Regions from separate parts of the Homo sapiens genome. Here region 1 is linked to region 2. A link means that fine-mapping ties the variant in region 2 to the expression of a gene that starts in the linked region. Tissue or cell type: whole blood. Region 2 holds a variant in brackets; the other region holds the start of a gene. All regions are shown on one strand. Distances are between the middles of the regions.

What was found. PIP is the estimated chance that this variant, and not a neighbour inherited with it, causes the effect.
Region 1: it holds the start of NADK2, and the variant in region 2 is fine-mapped to the expression of NADK2 in whole blood (INTERVAL, PIP 0.96).

Annotation. Positions count from the first base shown.
Region 1 is chr5:36,237,643-36,245,256 of GRCh38, reverse strand. NADK2 (NAD kinase 2, mitochondrial) reads left to right here and starts at 3,332. Exons shown (of 12, transcript NM_001085411.3): 1 at 3,332-3,758. The coding sequence starts at 3,459. It overlaps LOC124900962 (a long non-coding RNA gene), which reads right to left and starts at 3,355. Exons shown (of 3, transcript XR_007058733.1): 1 at 3,229-3,355. RefSeq lists enhancers at 2,808-3,007, 4,358-4,427 and a silencer at 3,248-4,267.
Region 2 is chr5:36,187,454-36,195,067 of GRCh38, reverse strand. It overlaps NADK2 (NAD kinase 2, mitochondrial), which reads left to right. Exons shown (of 12, transcript NM_001085411.3): 12 at 1-2,479. It also overlaps a transcript of SKP2 not described here. Among named protein-coding and RNA genes, the nearest start is that of NADK2-AS1, 30 kb to the left of the region's middle. The variant TTTG/G (reference allele first, on the strand shown) is at 4,382.

The DNA.
Region 1 (7,614 bases), 50 kb before region 2:
ATGAGGTCAGGAGATCGAGACCATTCTGGCTAAGATGGTGAAACCCTGTCTCTACTAAAAATACAAAAAATTAGCCAGGCCTGGTGGCACGCACCTGTAGTCCCAGCTACTCTGGAGGCTGAGGCAGGAGAATCCCTTGAACTCGGGAGGCGGAGGTTGCAGTGAGCTGAGATTGCACCACTGCACTCCAGTATGGACGACAGAGCGAAACTCCATCTCAAAAAAAAAAAAATTCACAATTTTTGCAAAGCTAATCATGTCATTTTCTCCTTTTGGTTGCCTCCTAATATATGCAGGATAAAAGGCAGGTTCCTAAGCATGGATTTAACATTTTCCATTGTCTTTACCCTTGTCTACCTCTCTAGCCTCACTTCCCCATGTTGCCTGCCTCTCTCTAAATTCTCTAAAATTTCAAAATTGCTAGTTCATTGCTTCTATGCATTTGTTCATGGTGTTTCTTCTGTGGAATTTCCTTCTCATTCTTGCTGATAATGGCTAATATTGAATTCATTACTTAAGGCTTAGCTCTTCACATTCCCAAAAAGCCTTCTCTAACTCTTGTTAGGTTGACTTGAGACTTGCTCCTCCAAATTTCTCAGCATTCTGTGTATAACTCTATCACTGCATAGACTTTAGGCTCCTCAAGGGCATGGAAGCTTTTTATCATTTCATCTGTAGCACCTAGCAGGATGCCTGGCCTACAGTGACACTCAAATTTAATTTAATCTCCACGAATGTGTGTTACATGTGTAAGATTTAAGAGACATTATCTAAAAGGAAACTAGATAAGGATTGGAAATTCAAGAGAAAGATCTGGGCTAAAGATGCCAGTAATAGCTGAGGTCATGAAAGGGGCTAATATTTGCCAAGTGTCTACTGTGTAATGGGCACAGTGCTAAGCATCTGTGCATATATTCACAATTTTACAAGGTAGCAATTATATTTTATAAATGCAGAAGTAGTCTCAGGAAGGTTAAACAACCAGTTCAAGTTTCACAAAGCTAATAAACAATAAAACTGAGATTTGAACCAAGATCCTTCCATTACACAACACTGAATGAACTCAGGAGCGTGTGTGTGTGACAGAGAGAGAGAGAGAGAAGGAAAAAAGACGGAGAAGAAGAGACAAGGAGACGAGGACAGAAGACATCTTGGAGATGGGTTTAGGAAGAAGTCAAAAAGGGACATAGAGATGGGAGAAACACTGTTAGGGACTGGTATGTTGGGAGACAGTAAAAGATTTCAAGAAGAAATGATAACCATTTCAAATTCTTTGGAAAGATCAATCAATTAAAGAACTGAAAAAAGTCTTTTGAGTTCCAACAAGATCTTTTGGTCACCTTGGAAACAGCAGTAATTAGCAAAGTAGTGGGGAGAAGCTAGTGTACAACAGGTTGAGGAATGACTAGGAGGCAGGGATGTGGCAATGATGAACAGACTACTCTTTCGAGAATCAGCTGTAAAGGTAAGGCAGGCAATATGTAAAAACAAAGGCTTAGAGGTTGTTTTGTTTTTTTAGAAAAATTTTAAAGATGTCATAGACATGAGCATATTTAAATACTGAAGAGGCAAACTCATTTGGGAGGGAAAATTCAAGATACCTGTGAGAGGATGCCTTCAGAAACACTATTTTTGAGGAGGTGGAAGATGAGACGCAAAATAACTATGGACAAAGGGCTATTCCAACTGAGATGTCAATGTATATGTTTGCAGCTGAAATGAGAGTCAAAAATCTGGGTTTTTATCTGTGAAATGGGAAGAAATGAGGTCCGAGATTTCAAATATGAGCAACAAAACTCAGACTTTGATCCCAAACAGTTTCTCCCTACGCATTTTTTTTTCTCTATCGAATGGATCAATTAACATTCCCCTGTTCACCCTGGCCTCAAACCTAAGCGTCATCTGTGATTTCTCCCTTTTTTTTTTCCTTCCTAATGCTAATGAAGTTTAAAATAGTAAGACTACAAAGGAGTCTGAGGATAGTTATAGATGTTACCTCTAGAAGCTCAGGTTATTAAGGTTGTTACACTACACGTCACTATTAGCAGCTGCTGTGAGGGAAAGTTCTTGGTGAGAACGGGTCAGTGGTAGAACTTTACCAAGTAAACACCTATCGGGCTTCATTGTGTATGCTCCCAGTCCAATACACTACCTGGCACACAGCAGGCACACCGCGGGAACCCACGAATGAACGCTGGTGCTGGTGGGCCCGTGAGGAGAGTCATAGATTCACTGAATCGATTTGGACTTGGTAGAACCTTGGGGTCACCCTAACCCCCTTTTTACAGATGAGGAATCTGAGGCCCAGAAAGATGAGGTAACCTGCCCAAAGTCCAGAAGCGACGTAGCGCCAGGACTACAAAGGAGCAAACACAGTGCCAGGGGAAGGGGATCTAAGGAGCTGCGGAATTGAACAGCAGGATGTGCACTGCCATGTGGTTCTCCCCTTACAATGGGACGTTTCCTTCTGTTCTCGTCACACCCCAGCCCAGGTCCTGATCACTCCACGGGTCATTATCCCAACAGCATCCCTTCCTCCTCTTCTTGCCTCCCAAGCTACCCAAGATTCCAAAGCCAGATCAATAGTCATCAAACATTGCTTTAACTCACTCCTTTCCAGTTAAAAGCTTTCAAAGAACTAATTCATTTGGACTTTGTCCTATAGGTAGGGCTCTTCGGGGGGGCAGGGGGCAGCGGGGCGGGCACTGGGTCCCACGCCGAGAGGATTTCGTGCCAAGCCACGCACACGGTGCAGCAGGAGCCGGGTCCGCCTCCTCAGCCCCCAGCCCGGCCCCAGACACACCAGCTATCACACCGACCCTGGTCAAATAAACCAATGGGCACGTGGTCGGCCTGCAGAACAGAACCCAAGCGAGCATATGCCAGGAACCTGCCTTCCCGCCAGCCGCTCAAAACCCCACCCGCTGGCCCCGCGCCGCCTCAGACCGGATCCAGCTGGATTCCTCAGGGCGACGCAATCGCCTAACAGAATTCTACCTCTTTCTCAGGCCGCAGCCAATGGCGCGGCCCCTCGGATCCGGAGCCGCCGCGGGCTCTGATTGGCCGATAGAGTTAGCCTGGGGGCGGGAGAAGAGCGACCTCGGGGAAGCGTGTGGTGCGGGGAGGTCGCCCCCGGGCGGCGAAGCAGCCATTATGCAGGCGTGAGTGAAACGAATAAACAAACAAACAAAACCCACTAGCTGGGGCCTCCATTTCTTCCCCGCCCACCTTTCTCCCGCGTGGGGTCTCCCGTTTCCCAATCGCCACGCTTTCCCCGCCTTCGTCAACGCCTGGGTACGTCCCCCTAGCCGCGTGGGCCACGCACGTCCTGGCACTTAACCTCTGCCCGTCCGGCGCGAAGTTAGAGGCCCGGGCGGCGCGGACGGCGCGCACTCCCGGCGGTAGGGAGCTGAGGCAAGGGGCCCGAGCCCAAGCCCGCGGCCGCGGCCCGGCCCACGATGACTTGCTACCGAGGCTTCTTGCTGGGCAGCTGTTGTCGCGTGGCGGGCGGCCGGGCGGCGGCGCTGCGGGGACCGGGTGCGGGAGGCCCCGCCGCGCGGCCCCGGCTGGGCGGTGACGGTGGCGGCCGGCGGCACCTGGGGCAGGGGCAGCCGCGCGAGCTGGCGGGCTGTGGCAGCCGCGCGGACGGCGGCTTCCGCCCCTCCCGGGTGGTGGTGGTGGCCAAAACCACCCGGTACGAGTTCGAGCAGCAGCGGTACCGTTACGCGGAGCTCTCGGAGGAGGACCTGAAGCAGCTGGTGGGTCCTGGCTCGGCCCCGCTTCGCTCCCGGGCTCGGCCGGGGCTCTGGTGGCGGCTGCGCCCCCTCGGGGGGACCTCTCGGGACGACTCTTCCCAGGGCACCGCAGATGCCGGTCCTGCCTCTCTCGCGGCCCCCAGGTCCTCTGGCTTCTCCCTGGGCCTCCTTTGCCTTTGGGCGTGTGTGCGAGGGAGAGGCAGGGCCGGGGAGAGGGGGAGAGAGAGGGACAGTGGTTCATGCAGGGACTTAGGAGGCAGGGGCGCCGCGGGGAGGGCGAAGAGGGGCTGCCGAGTGGCCTCAGAGTGAGGGGTTTGAGGATTCGTTGGTGCCCTCGCCGCCCCCGCCCTCGTTCCCTGGTTGGGACCCACTCCAAGAAAGTGAGCCAGTGGCCTGAGGTCTGGACGCCCTGCGAACAGCTCCCCTGGCCGCCGCGAGAAAGGGGGCCCAGGGCGCCGCTGAGGGCTGCCGGGGGAAAAGGGCCGAAACAACCGCGGACACACCCCCTTTTACTCTGCAGGACTGCGAGGCCTAGGGCACTCCGGAAAGTCCTTCAGCGTGAGCCTTTTCCTTGCTGGAACGTGGTCGTTGGACACTACGAGCTTGTTTTAAAAGCACAGGTCTTTGGTGCTAAGAAGGAAAAGGGAGAAAATTTGACTTGTATATGTACGTTATTAAGGAGAAATGTCAGGACAAGGGGCTGGTATACTGGGTAGTGTGTGAAATAAAAAAGCCTGCGACTCTTGTGCAGCAGTATCTCCACAATATACCATATTTGATATGTTTATTAATATATCTGCAAAGATACAAATCCAAGGGAAAAACCAGAGTTTGAATCTTCCTGTTGTCATCCCCCCCCACCAACTTTAAAAACAGTTTCTGATCCCATACCACCATCCACCAACTTTAGGAAAAGGAGAGTGCCCGGTGCTACCATGAGCAGTATGTCCAGAAAAATATATTGGAAATCTCTTAATTGTTGGCACTGTGCACCAAAAGGTTTTGGAATTAATTGCACATAACTGATTTAGTTTAATTCTGTGCAAGACTAGACAACCTGTTGGAAACTTCTGGTATCGTGTGATCTTAGCGAAGTTATTTTGTAGAGGCATCAAAATGAAATTGTAAATCATCTTTGCTTAAGTGCTGAATCTGTTGTCAACATTAAACATCCTGCTTCTTTGTTGGGTTTACTGAAGAGGGCTCCTGCATTCACCTGATGGGAGTCTAGATGTGTAGATTTGTTTTCTTTTTCCTAAGTGTTTGAAAATGACTGTTTATAGAATACACTTGCATCATTTAAAGAATAAAGGGTTTGAACAGGAGGTTAGAGTAGTTGAGTTTGTATTAGGGAGTGAAACTAGAGGTGAGATAGGGACTAGTAATGTTCTAAGAAAGCACAGTGTTACTATTTGGGGAAAGTGGTGTGCCCTTTGGGTTGTACTAATTTTGCAAAGTCTAGCTTGTAGGATTTGTCAAATGCCATGTATGCATAAATATGTGCATACAGTTTTATCGAAGCTTCCCACAACAATTTAAAATAGCTCACTTGGCATGTTCAGAGTGTGGGATTAAGAGTGAAGAGCTCAGTTCTAGGCCCTGGTTCTGTGTGGTTAACTTCCTATGTGTGTTCTTCTCTGGGCCTCATAGGTGGAAATGATACTTTTTGTATAGTAGTGTCAGTTTTCAAAGTGCTTCACCTAATTCAGTATGTGAATTGCAGAGGTAGTACCAGATAGCCTCCAAGGCCCTTTACAGTACTGGCATTTTGAAACTGTGGATAACGTTTTCAAGGCCTCAAGAAAATGGGTGGCATCTCAGTTAGGATTAACTCTTGGACCTCTGAACTAGATTACCACTTAATAAAAAAACTTTTAAAATGTAGGGAAAATCAATAAGTCTTAAAAAGTCAAACTACCTAAGTGTACCCGTTCTGAGTGGAGAAATCTCTAATAGGTAAATATTTGTCTATTGCTAGGTAATGCTGTTTGGGATAAGCCAGCTTTGAAGTAAAACTCGTGGGCTGTAGAATACACAGTTTTGTAATTGCCAGGCAGTGGAATAGTTTTTGTTGGTGGTGTTGTCATTACAGTTTTATTGGATAAGTTCCTTACTGATTTGAATTTGTGTTATAGTTTATATAAAGGCCCATACTCAGAATGCAATAGCATTAGTTGTAGACCAGATGAGAGATTATTAACAGGCCAAAGAATACTGGGCTGTGTGAAGCTGTCCTAAAATGGGATTCTGTAATAGGAGTGATAAGATGATAAGTATTATTTGTTATATTGCTGGGGTAGAAAATACTAAGTTATGTGAATCATGTGAATTGGATGGATATAAAAGAAAGTGGCCAAGTGCTTGAGTCTCACCATGGCTGCTGTGTCTATAGTGTCATGGTAACTTGGTTTTTTGTCAAAGCATTCTCTTTTGTTGTCGTGGTGGTGGTTTTTTGATGTAAAACAGGTCTGTTTTAGGCTATTTGTTAAAATGCAAATGGAAGATGAAGGATAGAGTGCCAGTATAATTTTATACCCTGAAGGCTGATGATTTTCTAACTTTGTAGAAATGTAAACAATTACAGGAAATATTTTTTAGTTGATAAGGCATGCACAGAATAGGTTTACAACCTTCAAGCTAGTCAAAGTTTTGACTTTTATTTACCGTTTCATATTGGTTACATTGCTTTATTTTAAAATCTTGTCTTTTTCCCCATTGATTGACCAGTGACTTATTTTGTGATATCAGATTTCTGGTCAAACATTTTACCTCTACTGTCTCATGACCTTTCAAAGGCCAGTAAAACTATTATTACAATTTACTTGCATCATTAAGAGATGTAGCTGTTGGCAAATGTGCAATTGCTATTAACAGGGTCCTTGACACAAATTAGAACTCTAGATGAAACAAAACTGACTTGGAAAGGATTTTGACACCAGAAACATACCTCATTGGTCAAAAAAAGGTTTTATTTAAAGCTCTTTTTCACCTGTCACCAGGGATGGGGAACTGAATAAGGAAAAAAAATTTTAATGTAGAACAAATAAGAAGTCAGCAGTTTCTGCCCTCCTCTCCATCATTCCAGGTCTCACAACTCGGCAACCCTTTTACTGGTTCCTATTTTTAGTTTTGTTTTTTAAAATTCATAATGGGATAGAATAATTTCATTTAACAGTCTGCCGTGTTATTGGATTAAACTAGATGACTTGGAAGGTGTAGCACCTTGGATTTCCCTTTTGTTTTCTGAAGATTTTGTGGCTTAGGTTGTAGCACTTGGGCAGATAATACTTTTGCCACAGGGTATGCAATAAGCGTACCATGGTATACTTTTGTCAGGTGGTATACTTTTGCTACATTGTATGCAATAAGTATATTACATACAATATGATTGTTAATCAAATTAAAGAGCATGATTTGGAGTACTGCCAGAGCTTTCTAACTGAATCCTTGCTCCTCTCAAATCTTCTAGACACAGTTACCAGAGTGTCTATCTAAAGTGAACATCTGGCCCTTTCTCTCTTTTGCTTGGAACTCCACAGAAGCTCCCTGTACCCTTTAGTCACCAAGAGTACTTGTTAAAATGCAGACACCTGAACCTTAGCCCCGCAAGACTCTGACTCAGTTTGTGGAGAATTCCCAGACTTTGGTTTTATGAAGCACACACCTGAAATTAATGACTCCGGCTGAATTCCAGGGATGTGTTTTATCCCTGGTTGGCATGTGGTCCCCAGTTAAACTGAGAAACACAGTTGTGGGCTCAAGTTCATGATCTTTAGAATGGCAGATAAGTCCCTTCATGAACTGGCTATCTCTTGAGCTTCACTTCTGATCACTTCTTGTCTTAAATTTCATATTCTAG
Region 2 (7,614 bases):
ACATTTTTTGGTTATTGTTGAGACTGCTTGCCCGTGGGCTCAGAAGTGAGATTTGCATTATTCTTCTGTTGGATTCTGATAGAAAAAAAGACATTCACTGTATAAGAAAATGGATGGACTGAACCAATTAGAATTGATACCAGTGAAATTTTTATATTGCTTACAATTGGTAACCAAGAGTGCTGATACCTTTTTAAATTTAGAGGGGCAGGCTTAAATAAAGGACTAAATATTTAGGATTTGAAACTTAACTGTATAAGTGTGTTTTCCTTCCCTTTCCTCCTAATTGTGGGATTGTCAGAACTGAACACATATCATTTGATTAGTGCATATTTTTTATAGTACCTGAAAACCAAGATTTTGAAAAAATTTTCAAGACAGAGAATTTTGATAAATCCTGACATTGACCTAATTGACATAGGTAAATATGTTTGTATATGTGCTAATAATTTTCTAATTTCGGAACACGATGATGTTATGACTATTGATTTAAAAATTTCAAATAATAATTTTTGAAATTATAGATGAATGCTTTCATTTGAGTTTCATTCTGTAATTCAGCAGTTCTGGGTGAAATACAGATAGCAAAACAAATCATGATGCTGTTACAAATGTATTAGTTATCCAATAAGTGTTTTAAGTCAATTTTTTTAAAATGATATGAGTCTTACAGGTTTCTTCCATCTTTAAAATGCTCAAACATGGATTCAGGGACTAAAAGGATGAACTGATTAGACATTTTCTATTAGGAGTTTGGTAAAATATTGTAAAAATATCTTCACCTGTGTTAGGAGTATTATCAGAAAGAATGGATTCTTTAATAAATATGTAAAACACAGTAGTTTTGGAATTGCCTTCCTTAGTATTGTGGTTTTCACCTAGCTTATATTCCAAGATTTACAGAATAGCTTTTAGGATAAGATGTTAGGACTTTTTTTTTTTCCCCATGAGAATTCCTTTATTTTTGGAGGAAATTATTATCTAATTATTGATCTACTTATAAGTAATCCTAGAATTTTTGCCAAAAGATCCTGTCGTTGCATAATCAAACAGTTGGTATTCTCGTGCCGTTGTTCAAAGTCATGTGTTTCTTTCATTTGGTGCTGAAAATTTCTGTTCAATCATTGACAAATATTTATTGAACACCCACTCTGTGCCATGTAAAACTATGTCAGGTGCTGGATATGTTGATGAATGAAACAGACTCTATCCTTATACAATTTGAGTCTTGTGGGCTCAGAAGTAAATTCTGTGAAAGCTGGACGGATAGTCGAATTGAGTGCTCTTAGTTTTGCCAATATTTAACATGTTGTTCTTATCAATTTTTTAAAATAAATGTTAATGTACAAAGTTAATCTAGGTTTTGATGTATATCCAGAGAATCAATTTTTCTTAAAGTATCTGCGTAGACATTCATAGCAAAGAATTTATGACATATCAGATAGAAATACATTAAAATGTAGTGTTTTCCCAGAGATTGATCTGGCTTTTTTTTTTTGATATACATAAGATACCACTTTATAAAGAAGCTCCATACTATAGAACCTCCCCTAACAGGCTTAAAATACCTTCTTTTTTTTTTTTTTTTTTTTTGAGAACGGAGTCTTGCTTTGTCACCCAGGCTGGACTGCAGTGGCATGATCTCGGCTCTGCAACCTCCATCTCCCAGGTTCAAGCGATTCTCCTGCCTCAGCCTCCCAAGTAGCTGGGATTACAGGCAGGCACCACTATGCCTGGCTAATTTTTTGTATTTTTAGTAGATATGGGGATTCACCATGTTGGTCAGGCTGGTCTCGAACTCCTGACCTTGTGATCTGCCTGCCTCGGCCTCCCAGTATTGGGATTACAGGCATGAGCCACCATGCCCGGCCTTAAAATGCCTTCTTAAAGGAAAAATGCCAACTCCATCCTTAATCTCAAGGAAATCTGATTGTCCAAATAGATCTGTTAATATGTAACATATTAATAGGTAACTTGCTGTGTAAAATTATAAGCCATATTTTAAAAGGTTTTAAAAATACTTATTGTGCTCCATTTGTGATATAATTTCTAACATTTCTGCTCTGTGATGGGGGTTTATTTGTAAGAATAAGAGGCAAAGGAATGTTAGCATAGCAAAAATGTGTTTGAATGAGTTAACCTTTTAATCGCAACCCTATGTGAATAAAATTACTCCACTGTTACCTCTTCTTTTTAACATTTCTTATTTCCCTCTCAAGGGGTCATTATTTGAAAACTAGTTTTCACAAAATGTTATGTTTCAGAAGTGTTTCCCCACTGCTGTGTATTATTATTCTGTGCCCTGTTGACTTCATTCACTGTTAACATTTGACATAGAATGATTAGTTATTAAATCAGGGTGAAGTGCTTACCTGGTCAGTGTAGGCTCTTCAGATAATTTTGACTTAATATTTTTGATACTCCTTGTGCATTTACATTCATGGCCCCTGTACATTAAATCATATTACATGTTTTACTACATTGATTTCACTTTTTAATAAGCAGAAAGAGAGCCAGGTAACACATTTTTATTGTAAAATATCCACTTGAGTTGAAAAAGTTGTCAAATACAAGTTTAAGGATACGTTATATATTTTGCTTAGTTGTGAAAATAATGTACATTTAGAATTTAAATCACTTAAATTCATTCCATTGTACCAATATTATTTATGCATCCTTATACTTAAGAATAGCATCTACTAAGACAATTATGCAGAAAAGATCCCAGGGATAATGCAACACCTAAATATAATGGTGGGGGAGATAAGAGTAAATGTACTAATGAGTTGTCTAACTAAAGAATAGTTCAATTTTATTTTTTCAAAGGCATTTTATTCTTGACTTTAACATTAAAAGTACTCAAGGGATTGGGGCATAAGTCAGTGAGAAGGCTTATTAAGTTTTCTACATTAAGGTATGAAGAGTTTTTAAGTCTTACGGGCTTTAAGACTTTTTTTAAAGAAAATCACTGACTACATGAGCTAAAAGTAGAAAAGCATATTTTAAGTGTTAATCTGAATACCTTAAATATAGTGATTTTAATGCTCAAAATTACAATTTAGATATTCTGGTATTTAGAGAAATGTAAAAATACCGGCATTTTAGTATTTAGATTTGCTAAAACATAGTAACTCAAAGCAGTTACGTTTTGAGTTATCCATAATATTAGTATAGGCTTTTAGGGCTTTGACTTGTATCTTGAAGGGTTAGTCTCTTGGTGAAGAAAACTTTGATTTTCTGGGATATTTGGCTAGGTGGGGAGGAATAGTAAAGAAAGAGGAGGTTGTCATCTTGCTTGTTCCATGGTTAGGGTATGCAGTGACAAGAGGTTTCTTTCTAGTTTGCCCAGTCTCTAGACTACTTGCCTTTGTTTCCTCATAGGCTCTGCATCTTCTCCTGGGCTGTTGTATCCTGCACATTGTGGATGGTCAATAAATGTTGAAGTGTAATTGGGTTCACCAGGATAGGACACAAGCGCTTTATCCAGAAATAAAGTTTTGCACTTGGCCAGTGTCCCTCATGTCTCTGGAGCTTGTGGATAGGGTCTATTAGGAATCAAGAGCCCAAGAGCAGGTAAAGTGACAGCAGTGAAAATGAAACAGACAGGTATGTATCTGAATAGAAGAACAGGATATTACTTATCAAGTGTCTCCTGGCTAAAAAAAAAAAAAAAAAGAACTTGATGATACAAGCCTCTGGAGCACTGACACTATTGACATTTTGTCCAGACAATTCTTTGTTGTAGGGGGCTTTCCTGTTTTCGGATGGTTAGCAGCATCCTTAGCCTCTATTGCCTGTATGCCAATAGCACTTCTCTTGTGACCATCAAAAATGTCTTCAGATGTTACCAAGTATCTCCTGGGTGGGGGAAAATCACCCCTGGTCTAGAGCTTTTTGTTGCTAGATCTAACCACCAGTTTATGGGAATAGGGGAAAGATTAACCTATTACTCCAGGGATAGACGCAAAATCCAGAATGTAGAACACAGGACAGATAACATAGTTTCTTCAATAAATAAATTACAAGGAAAGAAAGGAAGAAACCCTAAATTTAAGATTTAGAGAATTTAAATCAAATGCAGTATGTACACCATGTTTGGATCCTGAGCAAAATAAACCCATTGAAGAAAACACGAGACAACTGAGGAATTGTCAACACCATCTTGATATACAATGCTTCAGGATTCACGCAGGAAAATCCCTAACTTTTAGAGGTATATACCAAAATAGTTATGATATTATGGGTCTGGGTTTTGCTTCAAAATTATCTGTATTGGAGGGGAATGGTTGAGATCATGGATTCAGTGAGATTGGCCAGGAATCAATGACTGTTGAAACTGGAAGATGGGGTCCATCATATTCTTTTTTTTTTTTTTTTTTTT[TTTG/G]CATATGTTTGACGTTTTTCATCATTTAAAAAAAGGCATAGTGGTGATAGGACCAGCACAATTGGGTGATATTCAAGAATCACCATTCTACCATTCGAATGGAAGGGTCCAAAAGGAACAGAATTCCTGGAAGGCCTCTGGGCATACAGTGAACATTCAAATAGTTTCTGAATGACAATAAAACACATAGTATAACCTGATCAAATATATTTTTAAAATGCTGCTGACTTTTATTGATAATACTCCTTTGTCACTTGAATTCAAATGTTTTGTAAATATATTACTACTGGAAGCACTTTAAAGATAACAAGCCTGGTGAGGTGGTTCCAAGATGGCCGAATAGGAACAGCTCCAGTCTACAGCTCCCAGTGTGAGCGACGCAGAATACGGGTGATTTCTGCATTTCCAACTGGGGTACCGGGTTCGTCTCACTGGGGGTGTCGGACAGTGGGTGCAGGACAGTGGGTGCAGCACACCGAGCATGAGCTGAAGCAGGGTGAGGCATCGCCTCACCTGGGAAGTGAAAGGGGTCAGGGAATTCCCTTTCCTAGCCAAGGGAAGCTGTGAGAGATGGCACCTGGAAAATCGGGTCACTCCCACCCTAATACTGTGCTTTTCCAATGGTCTTAACAAACGGCACACCAGGAGATTATATCCCGCGCCTGGCTCAGAGGGTCCCATGCCCATGGAGCCTCGCTCACTGCTAGCACAGCAGTCTGAGATCGAACTGCAAGGCAGCAGCGAGGCTAGGGGAGGGGTGCCTGCCATTGCTGAGGCTTGGGTAGGTAAACAAAGCAGCCAGGAAGCTCGAACTGGGTGGAGCCCACTGCAGCTCAAGGAGGCATGCCTGCCTCTGTAGACTCCACCTCTGGGGGCAGGGCATAGCCAAACAAAAGGCAGCAGAAACCTCTGCAGACTTAAATGTCCCTGTCTGACAGCTTTGAAGAGAGTAGTGGTTCTCCCAGCACAGAGTTTGAGATCTGAGAATGGACAGAATGCCTTCTCAAGTGGGTCCCTGACCCCCGAGCAGCCTAACTGGGAGGCACATCCCAGTAGGGGCAGACTGACACCTCACACGGCCAGGAACCCCTCTGAGATGAAACTTCCAGAGGAACGGTCAGTCAGCAACATTTGCTGTTCAGCAATATTCGCTGTTCTGCAGCCTCCGCTGCTGATACCCAGGCAAACAGCGTCTGGAGTGGACCTCCAGCAAACTCCAACAGACGTGCAGCTGAGGGTCCTGACTGTTAGAAGGAACACTAACAGAAAGGACATCCACACCAAAAACCCATCTGTACGTCACCATCATCAAAGATCAAAGGTAGATAAAACCACAAAGATAGGGAAAAAACAGAGCAGAAAAGCTGAAAATTCTAAAAATCAGAGCACCTCTCCCCCTCCAAAGGAACAAAGCTCCTCGCCAGCAATGGACAAAGCTGGATGGAGAAAGACTTTGACGAGTTGAGAGAAGAAGGCTTCAGATGATCAAACTTCTCCGAGCTAAAGGAGGAAGTTTGAACCCATGGCAAAGAAGCTAAAAACTTTGAAAAAAGATTAGACGAATGGCTAACTAGAATAACCAGTGTAGAGAAGTCCTTAAATAACCTGATGGAGCTGAAAACCATGGCACAAGAACTGCATGATGCATGAACAAGCTTCAGTAGCCAATTTGATCAAGTGGAAGAAAGGGTATCAGTGATTGAAGATAAAATGAATGAAATGAAGTGAGAAGTTTAGAGAAAAAAGAGTAAAAAGAAACGAACAAAGCCTCCAAGAAATATGGGACTATGTGAAAAGACCAAATCTATGTATGATTGGGGTACCTGAAAGTGACGGGGAGAATGGAACCAAGTTGGAAAACACTCTGCAGGATATTATCCAGGAGAATGTCCCCAACTTACAAAGGCAGGCCAACATTCAAATTCAGGAAATACAGAGAACACCACAAAGAAACTCCTCGAGAAGAGCAACCCGAAGGCACATAATTGTCAGATTCACCAAGGTTGAAATGAAGGAAAAAATGTTAAGGGCAGCCAGAGAGAAAGGTCGGGTTACCCATAAAGGGAAGCCCATCAGACTAACAGTGGATTTCTCGGCAGAAACTCTACAAGCCAGAAGAGAGTGGGGGCCAATATTCAACATTCTTAAAGAAAAGAATTTTCAACCCAGAATTTCATATCCAGCCAAACTAAGCTTCATAAGTGAAGGAAAAATAAAATCCTTTACAGACAAGCAAATGCTGAGAGATTTTCTCGCCACCAGGCCTGCCCTGCAAGAGCTCCTAAAGGAAGCACTAAACATGGAAAGGAACAACCGGTACCAGCCACTGCAAAAACATGCCAAATTGTAAAGACCGTTAATGCTAGAAAGAAACTGCATCAACTAACGAGCAAAATAACCAGCTAACATCATAATGACAGGATCAAATTCACAAATAACAATATTAACCTTACAGGTAAATTGACTAAATGCTCCAATTAACAGACACGGACTGGCAAATTGGATAGAGTCAAGACCCATCAGTGTGCTCTATTCAGGAGACCCATCTCACGTGCAGAGATACACATAAGCTCAAAATAAAGGGATGCAGGAAGAACTACCAAGCAAATGGAAAACAAAAAAAGGCAGGGGTTGCAATCCTAGTCTCTGATAAAACAGACTTTAAACCAACAAAGATCAAAAGAGACAAGGCCATTACATAATGGTAAAGGGATCAATTCAACAAGAAGAGCTAACTATCCTAAATATATATGCACCCAATACAGGAGCACCCAGATTCATAAAGCAAGTCCTTAGAGACCTACAAAGAGACTTAGACTCCCACACAATAATAATGGGAGACTTTAACACCCCACTGTCAACATTAGACAGATCAACAAGACAGAAAGTTAAAAAGGATATCCGGGAATTGAACTCAGCTCTCCACCAACTGGACCTAATAGACATCTACAGAACTCTCCACCCCAAATCAACAGAATATACATTCTTCTCAGCACCACATAGCACTTATCCCAAAAATTGACCACATAGTTAGAAGTAAAGCACTCCTCAGCAAATGTAAAAGAACAGAAATTATAACAAACTGTCTCTCAGACCACAGTGTGATCAAACTAGAACTCAGGATTAAGAAACTCACTCAAAACTGCTCAACTACATGGAAATTGAACAACCTGCTCCTGAATGACTACTGGGTACATAACGAAATGAAGCCAGAAATAAAGATGTTCTTT